Homo sapiens: one gene and its partners. The protein of the gene in region 1 interacts with the protein of each later gene in a pairwise test. Each region holds a gene or a part of one and is shown in the gene's direction. Other genes may lie near its edges. The genes, in order: HOMER1, ZMYM5, C1orf116 and SHANK2.

Region 1 (5,392 bases):
TGCTTGAGCTAGCTCCCTTTGGTGTAGCAAGAGATAGGTCTAGAGCCTTATTATGCAGGGACTGGGTTGGAGAACCATGTAGATCAAATGAAAGATTGGATTATCCTGTAGTTTAGTGTGTTTAGAGGTTTTTTTGGCTATGACCCGTTGGAAAGATAAGCATCTTTACATTGCAACCCAATATGCTTGTATATAAATGATAAAATGTCACTACATAATACCCTTGCTTTGTATGGTACACTCTGGTAGTTTCTATTCTGTTCCGTTCTATTTTATTTTTAAGATAGACTGATGATGGTGACCCACTCAATTTATTTAATGACGCTGTGTTAGCAACTGGTAATTTGAAAAGCACTTCTCTTCTGTGTGAAGATTACTAAAGGGTTTTAAGCAGAGTAAGAACATGATCAGGGAAGTAGAATAAGAAAGCAATTTTAAAAATCATTTACAATTTGGTTTTGTGTCTTGTATCCTGTGGAAACACCAAGCCAGAACAATGAACTCTGGCTGGGTAGAGGAAGTGGACAGTTGGGCAGGCCCTGGAAGGTTCCGAAGTGGGGAGGGGAGGGATGGTGACTGAGAGATGTGTAGTTGGCTGAACGGGGCTTTTTCAGAATTAGGACATTTCATTGGAGAGGTAAGAATGTAGCAAAGAGCATGGTATGTTCTTAGCAGAGTCACTAACTATGGGTCATAAAATAGTGAATTTGGGAGTTAAGGGGTTGACAGAAGAAACTGTCCTTATTCATAGTTTATAGTTTTGAGTGATTAAACATCTCAGAAGAAAAGGTGGTTATATCCCAAAAGGTCTAACCTCTCTACTGCCATGTGATTTTTTTTTTTTTCAGTCTTTAGTGTTTAGTTGAAGTATTTATTTTTAGTTACTGGATTGTTATTTCAGATTAATATGACTAACTGGACAGAAGAGTAGGGAAAATGAGTGCCGAGTGCTTAATGTTTTCTGATATAATTTTTTTCTGATGTAGTTTTTAAATGACTATAAAACATTTTACATAGATTTATATCTCAGGTCGTATCTCGTGGAATGAAATGTGCAGTTTTTTTGTGTTGCATATTTGTAATGCCTTATGACCCGTGGCTAATATTTCTGTTTGTTTTTGAAAAGTTGAGTGATTTTGAGGCATTGCAAAGTTTCAGGTCTGTTAAATATGTTCATTTCAAAAGAATCTACATGTGATAAGGAATATTTATTTAGATTTTAGCCCATCTACCATCTAGAAGAATTGAGATAAAATTTTCACATCTATCTTACTGAATGAGTATTGCAAGAGTAGGTAAAACTGTTTTTTTTTTGTTTTGGTTTTTTTTTTTTTTTTTTTTTTTGAGATAGAGCCTCACTCTGTCACCCAGGCTGGAGTGCAGTGGCGCGATCTTGGCTCACTGCAACCTCCGCCTCCCGGGTTCCAGCATTTCTCCTGCCTCAGCCTCCCAGGTAGCTGGGACTACTGGTGCGCGCCACCACACCTGGCTAATTTTTGCATTTTTTAGTAGAGACGGGGTTTCACCGTATTGGCCAGGCTGGTTTCGAACTCCTGACCTCGTGATCTGCCTGCCTCGGCCTCCCAAAGTGCTGGGATTACAGGCATGAGCCACCGCGCCCTGCCAAGAGTAGGTAAAACTTTTTAAAAGCTAATCATTCAATGGTCTTCAGTATGTGAATAAAATCATATATATATATATTTTTTTGTTTGTTTGGTTTTGTTTTTGAGACAGTGCAGTGGCCCATGCTGGAGTGCAGTGGTGCCATCATGGCTTACTGCAGCCTTGACCTCTCAGACTCAAGCAATCCTCCTACTTTAGACTCCCGAGTAGCTGGGACTATAGGCTCACACCACCATGGCAGGCTAATTTTTGTACTTTTTGTAGGCATGGGGTTTCATCATGTTGCCCAGGCTCGTCTTGAACTCCTGAACTCAAGTGATCCGTCTGCCTTGCTGTGAGCCATCACGCCTGGCCAAAATCATGTATTTTAATCTTAATTTTTACAGCACGCCTCTCCATAGTCTATAAAATTAGGACATCCATAATGACTCTCTGTTAAAAGAGTCAACTTTATTGATGAACTTATGTTCTTAATTTTAGCATTTCATACCTTTTGATACTCCTTTTTCCGTCTGTCCTGAGTGTAACACATTTGTCATTTCTGTGCTCCTTCATGAAATGTCTGAGAAAGGAAAAAAAGATGAAACTGATAAGAATCAATGCTGTTTGTTTTAAGCAGTATTTTTGAGGGAAATTATCAACACATATAATCTTTTTTGCTTTGCCTTTTTCTTCTACTTGGATTTTTTAAAATCTTGTTTTTGAAAGTTTTTATCGCTTGAACCTGTGAGGCGGAGGTTGCAGTGAGCCGAGATTGCCCCATTGCACTTGAGCCTGGGCAACCAGAGGGAAACTCCATCTCAAAAAAATAAATAAATAAATAAATAAAAGTTTTTAAAAATTTGTTCACTTCTCTGGTAAGTACAATTTAGAATTAATTTAATTTTTTTTGTCTGCTAAACATTTCAGATAATAGAATTAATTTTATAGGGTCATCTTTTTTACTATTCTTTCAGTGAGGTTTTGTCCGCCCAAAAATGGATTGTGAAGCCAGTATGGCTCTTGCGTAGCTAAAATAATTTTATACATAGAACTAACATTTGACTTAGTTAATAACTGAATCTTATTTACCCTTATTTATGTTTTTTTCTATTAAGGTAGACTACTAAAGGAAGGCAAAAAGTCATTGTTTTCTGTCTTGTATCAGAAAATAAAATTGTTTATAAAACCCCCCAAAACCAGTAATCTAATCAATGTTTTATCTTCATAGTACACTTACCTTTTCATTTTCTCTACCTTTTAAAAAATCACCTTTATCTCTTAACACCTAATATTAATATTAGCTTTAAAAATTAGCTTGGCTTTACGAACATCTTATTTTAATGTTCTTTCATAAAACAAGAAGAGTTTCAATGTTATCTTTTGAGAAGTGTTGGCACCATGTCCTCAAGGCACAAAAGTTGTAAGAATTGAGGGCTTTCTGTAAAATTACCAAGCAAGAGTTAGGTAGACATTAAATACAAACAAAAAACTGTGCTTAGGGAACACAATTTCATTACTTTACAAGATCATTGAAAGTCATGTTTATTATGTCATGTCTATTGGCATGTCTGGATCCATGTGGTCACATGCCTCAGAGTCCAGAGGCCTGTAGAGGAGAATGTCCATGATTCCCCCCCTTTCCATAGAATGGTTTGTTCCTAATTTCTCATTGTCTAGTTGGGGAGTCTTTTTTGAAACAGAGTCTTGCTGTGTCACCCAGGCTGGAGTGAAGTGGCACCATCTCAGCTCACTGCAACCTCCATGTCCCAGGCTCAGATGATTCTCCTGCCTCAGCCTCCGGAGTAGTTGGGACTACAGGTGCACCACCACACCTGGCTAATTTTTGTATTTTTGGTAGAGATGGGGTTTCATCATGTTGGTCCTGACCTCAAGTGCTCCACCCACCCTGGCCTTTCAAAGTGCTGGGATTATGGGCATGAGCTACTGTGCCCAGCCTAGTTGGGGAGTCTTAATAGAAGTCTACTGAGAGACATAGCTCTGATACATATCTCTTTGGGTATTATACGCTGTGCTTCCTAACCCACAAGTTCATAGTGCAGTACATATGTGCAATATTAGTTGAAAGGATTTGGGGGAATTAGTGCTCATAAATAGAAAATCCTGATTTCTAGCAATTAGGCCGATAGTTGGATATACCAATTATTTTTCTGATAATTTTTCTAAGTAAATTTTTGGATTCTTTTATATTTACGTATATCTCAATCTTAAGTAGTTATTGTCTTTCTTCTGTTTTATTTAAGTATTTATAAGAGTTGTTCTGAACAAGACTTTCTTTGTGTGAGTTGGAATTTTCTGCCCAGTTACTTTCTAGCTTCCCTCATTGGCTCTTAGTAATGATCTTTAGGACATGACTATCAAAGACCTCAAAATACTCATATTAGGAATTTCTATCAGTCAGTCTTCCTGGAAGATAAGTCTGTACATTCCTAAATGTATATGGGACAAATATTTTGAACCTATTATAATATTTAAGTTGCTTAGCCTATCCCTTTACCTTTCTGTGCCCTTTTTTTTTTTTTTGCTTATTCTTTTGTAAAACAGTGCTGTTTTCTTTCTTACTCTGTTATGAATCACTGTCTCATGGCTTTTAACATTAAAATTTGTGTGCTTTGCTTAATCACTCTGCCAGCTCCCAGGATGTTTACAGATTGAGGATTCCTCCTACTCTTGTTTACTGAGTATTGCCAGGGTTCTGTATACATTAAGCTCAGTGGGACTACTCCCAAGTCACTCTTAAACTCGTCTTTCTTGAGATTCTGTTGATTTAAAAAAAAAAATTCTAGATCTCGCAGGCTGCTGTTTTCCTTACCCAAGTGATGATCTGTAAGATTTTAGTTGTGTATTTCATTGTTGCTTTCATTTAGTATTTTACTATTGTTAAATTGATATTTATTGCTATGCATATGTTAGTATAGTGGAAATAGACATTAATGATGACATTGCTGTTTAATTGTATTTTGCAACATTTTAGTACAGATGCCCTTGAACAACACAGGTTTGAACTGTGTAGGTTCACTTAAATGCAGAGTTTCTTCCACTGCTGTCACCCCTGAGACAGCAAGACCAACCCTTCCTCCTCTTCCTCCTCAGCCTGCTCAATGTGAAGATGAAGATAAGAATATTTATGATGATCGACTTCCACTTAATGGATAGTAAATACATTTTCTCTTACTTATGATTTTCTTCTTTCTTTTTTTTTTTTTTTGGAGGCAGAGTCTTGCTGAATCCCACCCAGCTAATTTTTGTATTTTTAATAGAGACGGGGTTTTGCCATGTTGGCCAGGCTGGTCTTGAACTTCTGACCTCGGGTGAACCACCTGCCTCAGCCTCCCAAAGTGCTGAGATTACAGGCGTGAGCCATGGCACCTGGCCTCTGTTTTTTTTTTTTTTTTTTTTCTCTTTGTGACAGAGTCTCACTCTGTCACCCAGGCTGGAGTGCAGTGGCATGATCTTGGCTTACTGCAATCTCGCCTCCTGGGTTCAAGTGATTCTCTTGTCTCAGCCTCCTGAGTAGCTGGGATTACAGGCGCATGCTGCCAAGCCTGGCTAATTTTTGTATTTTTAGTAGAGACGGGATTTCGTGTTTTCCAGGCTGGTCTCGAGCTCCTGACCTCAAGTGATCTGCCTGCCTCAGCCTCCCAAAGTGTAGGGATTACAGGCGTGAGCCGCCATGCCTGGCCTGCTTTTCTTAATAACATGTTTTATTTTTCCCTAGTTTACTTAATTGTATGAGTACAGTATATAATACACATACAAAATGTGTTAA
Region 2 (3,500 bases), on another chromosome or scaffold:
CCTGGTCAACATGGTGAAACCCCGTCTCTACTAAAAATACAAAAATGGGCTGGGCATGGTGACTCACACCTGGAATCTCAGTACTTTGGGAGGCCAAGGCAGGCAGATCACCTGAGGTCGAGAGTTCAAGACCAGCCTGACCAACATGGAGAAACCCTGTCACTACAAAAAAAAAAATACACACACACACACACACACACATACACACACACACACACAAAATTAGCCGGGCCTGGTGGCACATGCCTGTAATACCAGCTACTTGAGAGGCAGAGGTTATGGTGAGCCGAGATTGTGCCATTGCACTCCAGTCTGGGCAACAAGAGCAAAACTCTGTCTCAAAAAAAAAAAAAAAAATTAAACGGGTGTGCTGGTGGGTGCCTGTCATTCCAACTACTCAGGAGGCTGAGCCAGGAGAATCACTTGAACCCAGGAGGCGGAGGTTGCAGTGAGCCAAGATCACACCACTGCACTCCAGCCTGGGCGACAGAGTGAGACTCCATCTATAATTCTTTTTTTTTCCTCTTTTTTTTTTTTTTTTTTTTTTTGAGACAGTCTTGCCCTGTCACCCAGGCTGGAGTGCAATGGCGTGATCTAGGCTCACTGCAACCTCTGCCTCCTGGGCTCAAGCGATTCTTGTGCCTCAGCCTCCTGAGTAGCTGAGACTATAGGTACATGCCACCACGTTGGCTAATTGTTGTATTTTTAGTAGAGACAAGGGACTGACCATGTTGGCCAGGCTGGTCTCGAACTCCTGACCTAAGTGATCCGCCCGCCTTGGCCTCCCAAAGTGCTGGGATGATAGGCACCCACTACCACACCCGGCCTGTGTAATTAGTTTTTTAAAAATTTTTATTTAAAATTTTTGTGGGTACATAGTAGGTGTTACATATATTGCATAATTCTTGACTGTTTTATTTATGATTAAGAATTGGGAACTAAAGGCCGGGCACAGTAGCTCACACCTGTAATCCCAGCACTTTGGGAGGCCAAGGTGGGCAGATCATGAGGTCAGGAGATTGAGACCATCCTGGCTAACACGGTGAAACCCCATCTTTACAAAAAATACAAAAAAAAAAATCAGCTGGGCATGGTGGCAGGTGCCTGTAGTCCCAGCTACTCAGGAGGCTGAGGCAGGAGGATGGCGTGAACCTGGGAGGTGGAGCTTGCAGTGAGCCAAGATCGCGCCACTGCACTCCAGCCTGGGTGACAGAGCGAGACTCCGTCTCAAAAACAAACAAACAAACAAACAAACAAAAAACGGGAACTAAAAAGCAAATTGGAAGAGTGAGAGTGGGGTTTCCAACTTGAAGCTTGCGGGTGATCTTCTGGCCAATTGATGGGGAACCCCATAGGTTAATATTTTTAGGACTTTCCTTTTTTGCTGATTCTTAGTTCCGCAGGGAAGAGTCTTGCTCAGAAAGAAAGCCTCCAGAAAAGAGTTTGCTGCCTGGAAAATAGAAGTCTGGATGCCAGCTCTCTGGGAATCAAGTAGGAGAGGGGACATTTTTTTTTTTGAGATGGAGTTTTGCTCTTGTTGCCCAGGCTGGAATGCAGTGGCGTGATCTCGGCTCACTGCAACCTCTGCCTCCTGGGTTCAAGCAATGGAGAGGAGATATTTCATGGTATTGAAACATTCCCCAGTGCTTGGTGAACCCAAGACTTAGATCTTATGTTCTATCTTATCAAAGAAAAAATTTTTAGAATCTGTGCTAGGATGGGGAAAGGCCTGTCACCATCAACTTGATGGGAGGGAAGATATCTCTCAACCTCTTTTCTTAGCATCTGCCCATTCTGTTCCAGGGATATGTGGTGCTACAGATTTCTGAGCCTACAGTGGAAATCAGAATGTTTCTTGGCTTTTTATTCACTGTTTTAGACTCTGGCTATCTCAGGTTGGCAGTTAACCATTCATCCATCTGTTCTTTGGCTTATAAAATCATATTGCTTTTGTTTCTTATTCTTCCTTTCCTTGTGGTAGTCCTGTTTAGGGGAGTTTTGGAAGGGAACGAAGTTAGTTGTATGTGATCAATCGGCCATCTTTTTTTTTTTTTTTTTTTTTTTGAAACAGCGTCTCTCAGTCTGTCACCCAGGCTGGAGTGCAGTGGCCCATCTCGGCTCACTGCAGCCTCTATCTCCCAGGCTCAAACAAGCTGCCTGCCTCAGTTTCCCAAGTAGCTGGGACCACAACCATGTGCCACTATGCCTGGCTAATTTTTGTATTTTTTGTAGAGACAAGGTTTCGCCATGTTGCCTAGGCTGGTCTTGAACTCCTGGACTCAAGCGATCCACCTGCCTAGGCCTCCCAAAGCGCTGGGATTACAGGGGCATTATACTGCACCTGGCCCACTTTACTGTCTTAATCCCTGCTGGGCTAGTGATTTCTAGGCAGAGTTGTTTTTTCTGTTTGTTTTTTGTCTTTGTGGTTTTTTTGTTTTTTTTTTTTAATTTTTAGAGACAGGTCTAACTCTGTTGCCCAGACTTTAGTGCTGTGGTGTGGTCATAGCTCACTGCAGCCCTGAACTCCTGGGCTCAAGTGATTCTCCTGCCTCAGTCTCCCAAGTAGCTGGGGATTACAGGCGTGCACCACCATGCCCAGCTAATTATTTTATTTTATTATATTTATTTTTTATTTTTGAGACAGGGTCTTGCTCTGTTGCCCAGGCTGGAGTGCAGTGGTGTGATCATGGCTCACTGCAACTTTGACCCCCTGGGCTCAAGCCATCCTTCCACCTCAGCCTCCCAAGTAGCAGCGACTACAGGCGTATGCCACCATGTTGGACTTTTTAAATTTTTGTAGAGAGGGGTCTCTCTGCATTGCCCAGGCTGGTCTTGAACTCCTGGGCTCAAGCTATCCTCCCATCTTATTCAGCCTCCCAAAGTGCTCAGATTATAGGCATGAGCCACTGTACCTGGCCTTTATTTTTTTGTAGAGATGAGTTCTCAGTTTGTTGCCCAAGTTGGTCTTGAACTCCTGGCCTCAAGTGATCCTCCTGCCTTGGCCTCCCTAAGTGTTAGGATTATAGGTGTGAGGCACCAGGCCCAATTTAGATAGTAATTTTGTACCTAGTTCCTGCAGTAATTCTCTTGCTATTTGTGGTAGTAGTTCAGTTGACTCTTCTTTTTTCTGATCTCATTACTTTTGTGAGTACCTTCAGAGTCATGGTACACCTTTATATCTGATTTTAAATAGGTGTGCTTATATACTCAACTGTGAAGTGTCTCTGAAAGTAGTCTACAAGAAGAGCTAAATAGGTCAAAGTACATTTATTCATTTCTTTGTTTTATGTTAACCCTTATCTTTACACCTAAATATCCCGTTAAATTTACGTTGTTTCCCATTCTCTAGAGATAGTTTACATGTAAGCATTTTGCTAGTGTTATAATTTGTGTATGAATAAGATACCACAAGAAGACTAGTTAAATGTTTAAAATTAGACAGTTGCTGAAATCCCAGCATGTAGCAATGTAGCATAGTATTTGCCTAAATACCTTTTTAT
Region 3 (5,392 bases), on another chromosome or scaffold:
GAGTAGGCCTGTAATCTGAGGTCATGGTGGAAACCAGAACATAGATTCTTGTAGCACATGGATTATTGAAGTTCTCTGCAATGAGCAGCATTACTTTAGTCTCTTACAAAGATCAAAGAAAATAGGTAATTAGGAGCCTAGGTTCTGGAACCAAACAGATTTAAGTTCTCTACTTATAAGCTGTATGACCTTGGGCAAATTACTTAATTTCTCTAAGCTTTAGCCTCCTCAGTTTTCAAATGGGATACTTAGTGTTCATACCCAATTCAATTTGTGGGGAGTAAATGTGATACAGGTAAAGCACCTAGCATATGCCTCTATATAGAAAAGAATCAGCCTTTCTAGGAGCAGAGACTGAGAATCTTCCAAAGTCACTGTGTTTAGCTACTTGTGAGTGGCATTTAATAAACTGTAATTTTTCTGGGCATGAATTTAAATCTCAGTTGTTGTGAGGCTGGTGTGAAAGAGTAAATCTGTGCTGCATCCAGACGCAAACATTTGTTGTTCATGCTTGTCACATACATAAGAATCATAGAGAATTTATGCTTTTTTGCATTGTATCCTATAGAGGTATTTGAAAATTTAAGGGTGTCTACTGAATGTCAAGATGTTTAAGACAACCAGTGGATTTTGATATGTAAAAATAGAGTAGAGAAAGAAACACACATGCACAAATCCAAAGTGCAGACAATCATACAAATTTCATTTTGACCCTAGATAATGGGGCTGTGGAGACGTCTTTCTATGTCTTTTAGGCTGAGGCCAACGTGAATAGTCACATAGCATTGGACACAGAATGTGACAGGGATTAAAGGTTTTCAAAGTGAATCATTCATGAAGGAGAAACTCAGAGTCAGCTTATCCTTGGCAAGGCTATTTTAGGAGGAAGAGGACAATAAAGATATTTTTCTTCAAGAAACTCTTGGCGTCAGCTTCAGAGCTTCCAGGGGCTATATTTGGGGCTTGCTTTAACATGTAGGCCCACATGCGAAAGGAAGTTCCAGAGGCAAATGGAAGGGTTATTCTGCAACCCTCTCCCCTCCCTCCAGGATATTTTTAGAGCTGTCTCAAAATCTTTCCTGGCCATCTGAGTGGGCCTGAAGAATATACAACTCTGAAGTGTCCCAAATATTAGGAAAAGGGCTGGAGATGCCAAGAAGAGACTTGGCCCAAATTTCTTATATTCCAATTTGCCCTTTTGTTTTCCCTTCAACCTCCTCTGTGGAAGAGCAACTATTCCAGCAAACTTCTAGCCCCATACAACATAGACAGTAACTGTCTGAGATGACCATTATTATTTTCTTCCAAAAACCTCTATGTACTCTCTCATAATGAATATGATCTACTTTAAGATCTACTTAATATTTAATACTAAGCTGCTTTTCCCTCCTCCCATACCATCCAGTTTCTCCACCAACCTCCCCCTTTAAGTTAATATTTGCTTTAGAAATGCACACTTACTTGAACATTAGCCAGAGCCAAATGTCATCAAGAAAGTAAATGTACAAGGGGAAAAATTCCCGTATGGAATGCATTTCAAAGTCAAGTACAAATCATTTAGTACATTTATCTGTGGCCAGTCATGCCACAGTTCCTACTGGCCTGGCAGCTCATAGCTGGCTTCATTTCCTGCTTTTCCTCATACTGCCCTTGACATACCAGATCAAGTATGCAGAAGTACTTTTAAAAGTTAAAAGCAATACCACTGAAGTTTCAGGTCAAATTGTTATGTTGCACTTCTTATTTGGAGCTAAATCAGAGGTGCTCAAAGTGAGATGTTTGACAAAGGCTGTCAAACATTGAAACTTGGGACTGCTTCTAATCTGTGCCCCTAAGCATTCAAGCCAGGACTGAGCAAAAGAAAGGCCCCTGCCATGTGCCTGCCCAGCTCCAGAGCTGGGCGCTAGTGGGCCAGCCTCCTGACAGACTCTGCCCTCCCTGGTGCCTACAGTTTCAGGAGGCAACTCCAGCAGCTTTGCAGAGTAGCAGGAGGGAAAGGTTTCCAGCTCTTCAGCATTCCTTCCTCTCTGCAGGGTGGTTCTCAGGCCCCGCCAGTTTCTGCGGAGGGAGCGCTTTCTCACAGCTCTCTCTCCCTCTCCTGTTCTTCTTCTCGCCCTCCCCCCCGCCTCCCCGCCCCCGCCCCCAACCCCAAACCCAACAGAGTGATAGCAGCTACGACTTCCTGTCCACTGAAGAGAAGGAGTGTCTGCTCTTCCTGGAGGAGACCATTGGCTCACTGGACACGGAGGCTGACAGCGGACTGTCCACTGACGAGTCTGAGCCAGCCACAACTCCCAGAGGTTTCCGAGCACTGCCCATAACCCAACCCACTCCCCGGGGTAAGGCAGACCCTCTGGGGTGGAACCCCAGCAAAACCCAGAAAATCAATATGTCCCCTCCGGCCACTTTCTACCTCGCCTGCCCTCTACCCCAAGGGTCACAGGCAGAAGAAGGTGTAGCCACACTCCTCACCACTCTCCTGGCTAGAACAGAGCCTTGTCCCTGGAGGGAAGGAGGGACCCCTGGCAAGCCAGCTTCCTATGTCTGTCTATGAAGTATCAGAGCTCTAGAAGGGAAAGGGGTTTGACCAGCTCCCATTCTCCTGTGGAAAAATTCTAAAGAGATATGACCGCAGAGGCGGGGGAGGGAGTCAGGGAGGGCTGGGTGGTTGGCTCTGGAGAGACTGAGTCAGTCTAGAGAGCTAATCTGGGTGACACAGAGGACAAGGGTAGGAGAGATAAGGAGAAGGAAGGGCTCCCCAGCTGCAGTGGGAAGTACCTCAAGGCCCTCGTTAGAGAGCGTGGAAAGCCAGTGGTATTCAGGCTCAGCAGAAGGGGAACAAAACAACACACAAGTGTGGCCATGACTGTGGGGCCACATGTCCCAGGGTGTGAGAAACCTTTTACTCCTGAGGACAGTCCCGCTGGTATTGGGGCTGCAGTTTTGTGTTGTTTCATTTAGCAAATATTTATTAACAAGTAGTTAGACCTTCCCTGGAGCTAGAGCTATAAATGGGGACGTAGGGCTTTCCTGCTCCATGAGGCTGATTCACTGGCCCAGGGGGCCTGATGTACCTGCCTAGCTCACTGGAAGGAAAGGAGTCACTTTCTGGTGTGGGGACACTATGGCTATTACAGAATTATCCACATGCTCATAGAAAGTGCAAGTAGAAGGCAGAAGCCTGGTTGAATCAAGAGCAAATCACTTATTCAGAGGCTTGCATTGGGCTCAGTTATCTGGGAGGCCCAAAATAGCTAGAAGGAACTGTCCCAAATTTATCTCCAACCCTGGTGCCTCTGTAGAAAACTGGGGAGAGGTCAAGTCAATAACTTAGAGCAATCAGGGGTCACTCTCTTGCCGCCCATCATGAAAAATTAATTCTCAGTCAAAAAAAGATATGCTATTATTATTTGTAGAAATGGGGGTCTCTTATGTTGCCCTGGTTGGTCTCGAACTCTTGGGCTCAAATGATCCACTTGCTTTGGCCTCCCAAAGTGCTGGGATTACAGGCATGAGACACTGCGCCTGGCCCTGGATCTGCTATTACTGATCTATTAGTCTAAATGATATCCAGACAAAAGTGCTGCTCTTGTAAAAGCAAAGAAAACAAGGCAAAATAAAACCCATTCATTGCTAGTTTGGGATCAGAGTTCAGGAAGTCATTGCTTTCCCCTCTGCAGCAGGGCCCTCACCTCTGTCCACTCTTTTTCTGTCCACTCTTTTATGTTCTTTCTGACCCTCACAGGAGGTCCAGAGGAGACCATCACTCAGCAAGGACGAACGCCAAGGACAGTAACTGAGTCCAGCTCATCCCACCCTCCTGAGCCCCAGGGCCTAGGCCTCAGGTCTGGCTCCTACAGCCTCCCTAGGAATATCCACATTGCCAGAAGCCAGAACTTCAGGAAAAGCACCACCCAGGCTAGCAGTCACAACCCTGGAGAACCGGGGAGGCTTGCGCCAGAGCCTGAGAAAGAACAGGTCAGCCAGAGCAGCCAACCCAGGCAGGCACCTGCCAGCCCCCAGGAGGCTGCCCTTGACTTGGACGTGGTGCTCATCCCTCCGCCAGAAGCTTTCCGGGACACCCAGCCAGAGCAGTGTAGGGAAGCCAGCCTGCCCGAGGGGCCAGGACAGCAGGGCCACACACCCCAGCTCCACACACCATCCAGCTCCCAGGAAAGAGAGCAGACTCCTTCAGAAGCCATGTCCCAAAAAGCCAAGGAAACAGTCTCAACCAGGTACACACAACCCCAGCCTCCTCCTGCAGGGTTGCCTCAGAATGCAAGAGCTGAAGATGCTCCCCTCTCATCAGGGGAGGACCCAAACAGCCGACTAGCTCCCCTCACAACCCCTAAGCCCCGGAAGCTGCCACCTAATATTGTTCTGAAGAGCAGCCGAAGCAGTTTCCACAGTGACCCCCAGCACTGGCTGTCCCGCCACACTGAGGCTGCCCCTGGAGATTCTGGCCTGATCTCCTGTTCACTGCAAGAGCAGAGAAAAGCACGTAAAGAAGCTCTAGAGAAGCTGGGGCTACCCCAGGATCAAGATGAGCCTGGACTCCACTTAAGTAAGCCCACCAGCTCCATCAGACCCAAGGAGACACGGGCCCAGCATCTGTCCCCAGCTCCAGGTCTGGCTCAGCCTGCAGCTCCAGCCCAGGCCTCAGCAGCTATTCCTGCTGCTGGGAAGGCTCTGGCTCAAGCTCCGGCTCCAGCTCCAGGTCCAGCTCAGGGACCTTTGCCAATGAAGTCTCCAGCTCCAGGCAATGTTGCAGCTAGCAAATCTATGCCAATTTCTATCCCTAAGGCCCCAAGGGCAAACAGTGCCCTGACTCCACCGAAGCCAGAGTCAGGGCTGACTCTCCAGGAGAGCAACACCCCTGGCCTGAGACAGATGAACTTCAAGTCCAACACTCTGGAGCGCTCAGGCGTGGGACTGAGCAGCTACCTTTCAACTGAGAAAGATGCCAGCCCCAAAACCAGCACTTCTCTGGGAAAGGGCTCCTTCTTGGACAAGATCTCGCCCAGTGTCTTACGTAATTCTCGGCCCCGCCCGGCCTCCCTGGGCACGGGGAAAGATTTTGCAGGTATCCAGGTAGGCAAGCTGGCTGACCTGGAGCAGGAGCAGAGCTCCAAGCGCCTGTCCTACCAAGGACAGAGCCGTGACAAGCTTCCTCGCCCCCCCTGTGTCAGTGTCAAGATCTCCCCAAAGGGTGTCCCCAATGAACACAGAAGGGAGGCCCTGAAGAAGCTGGGACTGTTGAAGGAGTAGACTCTGCGACCAGTACAGACCCTGTCCTGGCTGAACAAGAAGAGACACATGCTCCACTTGGGAGCCTTTGCCACCACGCAACTCAGGGCTCAAGATGAATGGGAGGGAGAGATTTGAGTCCAAG
Region 4 (5,392 bases), on another chromosome or scaffold:
TGCCTCTCTGAGTGAGAAGGCAGTGGGTGTTTTTGGTGTTTTAATTGAAGCCCTAGTTGCATTAGCCCTTTTGTTTTGGTATCAGGAGGGCCCTTCACCTGGAGCTGCACCACCCCCTCACCAGCTTCCGGGGGATAGCTATGCCTTTCTTATGTAAAAGAGCCTCAGGGATGTTAGGGAGGGGAGGTGGGCAGGGGATCCAAGGCCTTTCTCCACTGAGCAATTTCAGGAAAGACTTGGCTACCCTTTAGACTGAGCTGGGTCTACGTGGAAAGGGTCCTTGCACCTCAGTTTGAAGCCCCCTGCAAGGGAGATCTTAGTTCACAAGATTACACCTGTACTCAAGGTCCTGCAGGTGATTCTTACCTGGGGACAGTGATGATACTTACGTGAAGGCAGTGACATGTGATGCCAGGTGTGTGCTCTGCATACTGCCAGGCTTTGCTGCCTCCCTGCAGACTTGGGGGTGTCCTGCCCCACGTCTTCCTCACTCCGGCTCATCAGTCCCCTCCTCTTCTCAAGGAGAATCCAGAGTCAGCACCTAGAGTCCTCGGTGGGGGTGGGGAATGGCCAAGAGTCTGGACAGCTGGCAGTCTGCTCCCTGGTCCACTGGGGTGGGTCCTGGGAGGCTTAGGGCCCAAGGAATGGGGTGCAGGGCATCCTGGGTTTCCAGACCTGGAGCTGACACAGACTTCCGGGCTCCTGGGAGGTGGGAAATGAGCTTCCAAGCCTGTCTTTCCTGAAAATCCTGCCCTGGATTCCTTCCCTGGGGAGAATGCAGGCTTCCTGGGGAGTGGAGGGGGATGCTTCTGTGGCCTCATTTGTACCCCTGAGAGCATAGGGCTCAGCCGTTCCTGTCCATGTTTTTCCTGCCACCCCGCACAAATGTCCCTGGGATTTGAAGAATCTGCTCCACTCCCCTCTTCCCGTACAGGGGCCTGCAAACTAGAGGCATTTGCCCCTGGGCCAGCCGGGCTCCTGTCTGACCCCTCCTCACGAGGTGGACAGGTCCCCCAGGAAAGGGACCACGCCTTGCTCCTGTCTGCATTTCAAGGTCCTACAGTGGCCCCAAGCATGGACCAGGGGACTTTGGCAGGGGAAGATACTGACCCGATGGCGTCGCTACTGCCCCTCGTCTTGGTTCTGGACTTTCCCTCCCTCGAGGGTCATTCAGCTCCAGTGGCTGAACTTGCCGAAGGTCGTGTGGCCCAGCTGGGATCCACACCTGGCGGCTGCCCACTCCACCGTGCAGAAGAAGGCACCGGTCGCTTCCCCGGCCTCCAGATTGCCTCCTGGGTGGCACACCAGTTTATTTTTCTGTTCACTTTCAGGTAAAGCAGATGAGGTAGCACAGTGGTTGTCAGACTTCTAGCTTAAGGAATCTTTTTTGCTCTCTTAGCATTTTGAAGGACCCAGAAGCTTTTTATGTATGAGCACGAATCTATTGTTATTTACGCTATTAGAATTTACAAATATCTAATTATTAATGCATTTAAAAATAGTAATAAACTCATGACATGTTGGTATAAATAATGTGTTTTTATGGATAACAACTATTTTCAAAATAAGAAAAACACTTGGTGAGGCCGGTCGAGGTGGCTCAGGCCTGTAATCCCAGCACTTTGGGAGGCTGAGGCAGGAGGATTGCTTGAGGCCAGGAATTTGAGACCAGCCTAGGCAATATAATGAGACCCCATCTCTACAAAAAATAAAAAATTAGCCAGGTGTAGTGGCACGCACCTGTGGTCCCAGCTACTCAGGAAGCTGAGGTGGGAGGATTACCTGAGCCTGAGAGGTCGATGTTGCAGTGAGCCGTGATCACGCCACTGTACTCTAGCCTGGGTGACAGAGTGAGGAAAAAAAATAGTGCAGTGGCTCACACCTGTAACCCCAGCACTTTGGGAGGCCGAGACGGGTGGATCACTTGAGGTCAGGAGTTCGAGACCAGCCTGGCCAAAATGGTGAAACCCCATCTCCACTAAAAATACAAAAATTAGCCAGGCACAGTGGGGCACACTTGTAGTCCCAGCTACTCAGAAGGCTAAGGCACAAGAGATCACTTGAACCCGGCAGGCGGAGGTTGCAGTGAGCCAAGATTGCCCCACTGCACTCTAGCCTGGGCAACAGAGTGACAGTCCATCTCAACAACAACAAAAAAACACTTGGTGAGAAGAGTGGCATTGTTTAACATTTTTGTGGTCTTTTTGCTGTGAGGTTTAATGGAAGACAGCTGGGTTCCCGTATCTGCTCCTGCAGTCAGCTTGTTGCAATATCACAAGTTTTGTAGCTTCCGTTGTGCACTTGGGAGAGGATGAGCTTGAAAAAGCAGCTCCCATCTCAGTGTTATGATGAGAATGGTTTGACTTCATAGATCTCTCGAATAGGCTGGTTCCCGGGGCTGCACGCTGAGAGCCTCTGGGAGGAGCGTGTGATCCGCCTTGTCAGTGCATGGGTCCCGTTTGAAAGCTGGCTGTGCCATGTGGTCCAAAGGGTGCTTTGAATGATGCATGTACCTTTTCTTGTCGTTCAGGATATGTCTGTGGAGTTTAGTCAGGGGCTTCAGACAGCCACCAGCTGGTTCCGACCCCAGGGGCAGGCCCTCTGATTGTGGGGTCTAGGATGGTGGGAGCATGCAGAGGCACCTTCCAGGCTGTGGGGTCAAGGAGGCTGGCAGAGCCTAAGGCAGTTTAGGAGACTCTGAGAGAGCAGCCTGGCCAATTTATAGAGTGAGGCAGGCTTGCAAGTGTAGACAGGAGAGTGGAGAGGACTTTGTAGGTGTCTGGCTGCCCAAGGAAGCCTATAGTTTTCTTTTGAAGTCTGGTTTTGGTATCAGAGTAATACTGGCCTCATAAGATGACTTGGGAAGCATTGTCTTCCATTTTTTTCTGAAAAGTTTATGCAAAATTGGCCTTCATTCTTCTTTAAATGTTTGGTAGAATTCACCAATAAAGCCATCTGGGCCTAGGCTTTTCTTTGTGAAAACTTTTAAAATTATTGATTGGATCTCTGCTTGTCATAGGTCTTTTTAGATTTTCTGTTTCTTCTTGAGTCAAGTTTGTTAGTTTGTGTCCCACCAGAAATGTGTCCACTTCATGTGAGTTTCTCTAATGTGGTTGCTATGTAGTTGTTTGTAGCACCGTCTCATTATTATTATTGTTATTATTTTTTTGAGACAGAGTCTTGCTCTGTTGCCTAGGCTGGAGTGCAGTGGCGTGATCTCAGCTCACTGCAAGCTCCGCCTCCCGGGCTTACACCATTCTCTTGACTCAGCCTCCCGAGTAGCTGGCACTACAGGCGCCCACCACCAGGCCCAACTAATTTTTTTGTATTTTTAGTAGAGACGGGGTTTCACCGTGCTAGCCAGGATGGTCTTGATCTCCTGACCTCGTGATCCGCCCGCCTCAGCCTCCCAAAGTTCTGGGATTACAGGCATCAGCCACCACGCCCGGCCTGACTCCTTTTAATTCTGTAAGTTGGTAATAATGTCCCTTCTTTCATTCCTGAGTTTGGTAATTTGAGTCTTCCCTTCTTTTCTTGATCATTTCAGCTCAGGTTTGTAAATTTCGTTGATCTTTTCAAATAACCAACTTGTAGTTTCATTGATTTTCTTTATTGCTTTTCTAGCTTAGATTTCATTAACTTCAGCCCTAACCTTTATTATTTCCTTCCTTCTGCTAGCTCAGTTTCAGTTTCCCGTTCTTTTTCTGACTCTCACAAGGTGGAAGGTTTTGGTTATTGATTTGAGATTTTTCTTCTTTTTAACATAGACATTTACAGATCTGAATTTCCTTTAAGTACTGCTTTAGTTGTATTCCATAAGTTTTGATGTGTTTTGTCTTCTTTTTCACTCGTTTCAAAGTGTTTTCCAATTTCCCCGTGGTTTATTCTCTGACCCATTGGCTATTTAGATGTCTGTTTAATTTCCACATATTTGTGCATTTGTAAAATAAATTTCGAATTTCATTCTATTGTGGTTGGAGAACATTATTTGTATAATTTCAGTCCTGCTGATGTTTAATGAGGCTGTTTTATAGCCGGGCATGAGGCCTCTCCTGGAGAATGTTCCACGTGCCCTTGAGAAGAATGAGTATTCTGCCGTCTTTTGTGGCATGTGCTGCAGGTGTCTGCTAGGCTGCTCTAGACTCTGGGATACAACAGTGAACCAGACAGACAAATATTTCTGCCCTTGTAGGGTCGACATCCTCGCCAGGGGAGCAAACAATAATTAAAGGAGATCATAAATAAGCAGTGATGTAGTGTGGGAGGAAAGGAGAGCTTGCTGGTGGGGGCTGGGAGCCAGGGGGGCTGCTGTTTTAGCAGGATGGTCGGGGTGAGCTGCATTGAGGTAGCGGTCCTTGAGCAAACACTTAAAGGAGGTAAAGGAAGCGGTGTGTGATACAGGAAGAGTTCAGTGGAAATTGAGAGCACTTTTTTTCCCAATGCACATTTTATAAATTGTGCAAAATACCTATAACATAAAAAGTTACCCTTTTCACCATTTTTAGGTGTGTAGTTCTGAGGCATTAAGGATGCTCATCGTGCTCTGCAGCCATCGTCACCATGTATCTGTAGAACTCTTCAGCTTGCAGAACTGAAACTACGTCCCCACTAAACACTAGCAAACCAGCCCCCTTCTCCCAGCCCCTGGCGACCACCAGTCTGTTTTCTGTCTCTTTGACTTCTGTAGGGACCTCATCCAAGTGGAATCATGCAGTGTTTGTCTTTTTGAGTCTGGCTTAATTCACTCAGCATAATGTTCTCAAGCCTCATCCATGTTGTAGCGTGTGTCAGAATTTCCTTCCTTTTTGTGGCTGAGTAATATTCCATTGTGTGGATGGGCCACATTTTGTTTATACATTCATCCATCCTTGAGGACCTGGGTGGCTTCACCCTCTGGCTGTTGTGAATAATGCTACTGCGAACATGGTTGTGCAAGTATCTTGAGTCCTTGCTTTTAGAAAACACCTTCAAAAGCAGCGTCCAGCCCCAGGCCCGTCTGGTCTTGAGATACTAAAGCTGAGATCTTTTACCCACTCGCTCCAGCCTAGGCTGCTTTCTCACAGAAGGAGGCCCCACCTTTCTTCATGGGTCTCAGGAGAAAGTAGGGGTGACCCTGAGTGTGGGAGAAATTGTGGGACATGACTCCTTCCCATGTCTGGTGTCTTCCAGTGAGGCAAGGTGCTGCTCCCTGGGAACCTGGTGGGGGTGTCTCATCTTTGTGGGTTCAGCCCCAGCCTAGAGCTGGATCCCAAGAAAAACAGGGACCAGAGACAGTAGCAGGGGGGAGAGTGTCTCCTGCAAAATGTAGCTGATTAACTGATTAGATGCTTTCCGGTTGCCTCATGATCTTAAACGCAGGCTGATTGTGCAATGGGTCATTTGCTGATCTCAT

Evidence for each region.
Region 2: the proteins of HOMER1 (region 1) and ZMYM5 interact in binary tests that used the Homo sapiens proteins (3 or more experiments, as listed by UniProt).
Region 3: the proteins of HOMER1 (region 1) and C1orf116 interact in binary tests that used the Homo sapiens proteins (3 or more experiments, as listed by UniProt).
Region 4: the proteins of HOMER1 (region 1) and SHANK2 interact in binary tests that used the Homo sapiens proteins (3 or more experiments, as listed by UniProt).

What each region holds. Positions count from the first base shown.
Region 1 is NC_000005.10:79,503,165-79,508,556, reverse strand, and holds part of HOMER1 (homer protein homolog 1), read left to right. Parts: intron 1-5,392. UniProt on the Homo sapiens protein: Postsynaptic density scaffolding protein. Binds and cross-links cytoplasmic regions of GRM1, GRM5, ITPR1, DNM3, RYR1, RYR2, SHANK1 and SHANK3.
Region 2 is NC_000013.11:19,857,150-19,860,649, reverse strand, and holds part of ZMYM5 (zinc finger MYM-type protein 5), read left to right. Parts: intron 1-3,500. UniProt on the Homo sapiens protein: Functions as a transcriptional regulator.
Region 3 is NC_000001.11:207,021,834-207,027,225, reverse strand, and holds part of C1orf116 (specifically androgen-regulated gene protein), read left to right. Parts: intron 1-2,161; coding exon 2,162-2,339; intron 2,340-3,745; coding exon 3,746-5,268; 3' UTR 5,269-5,392. UniProt on the Homo sapiens protein: Putative androgen-specific receptor.
Region 4 is NC_000011.10:71,241,472-71,246,863, reverse strand, and holds part of SHANK2 (SH3 and multiple ankyrin repeat domains protein 2), read left to right. Parts: intron 1-3,335; exon of another isoform or gene 3,336-3,468; intron 3,469-5,392. UniProt on the Homo sapiens protein: Seems to be an adapter protein in the postsynaptic density (PSD) of excitatory synapses that interconnects receptors of the postsynaptic membrane including NMDA-type and metabotropic glutamate receptors, and the actin-based cytoskeleton.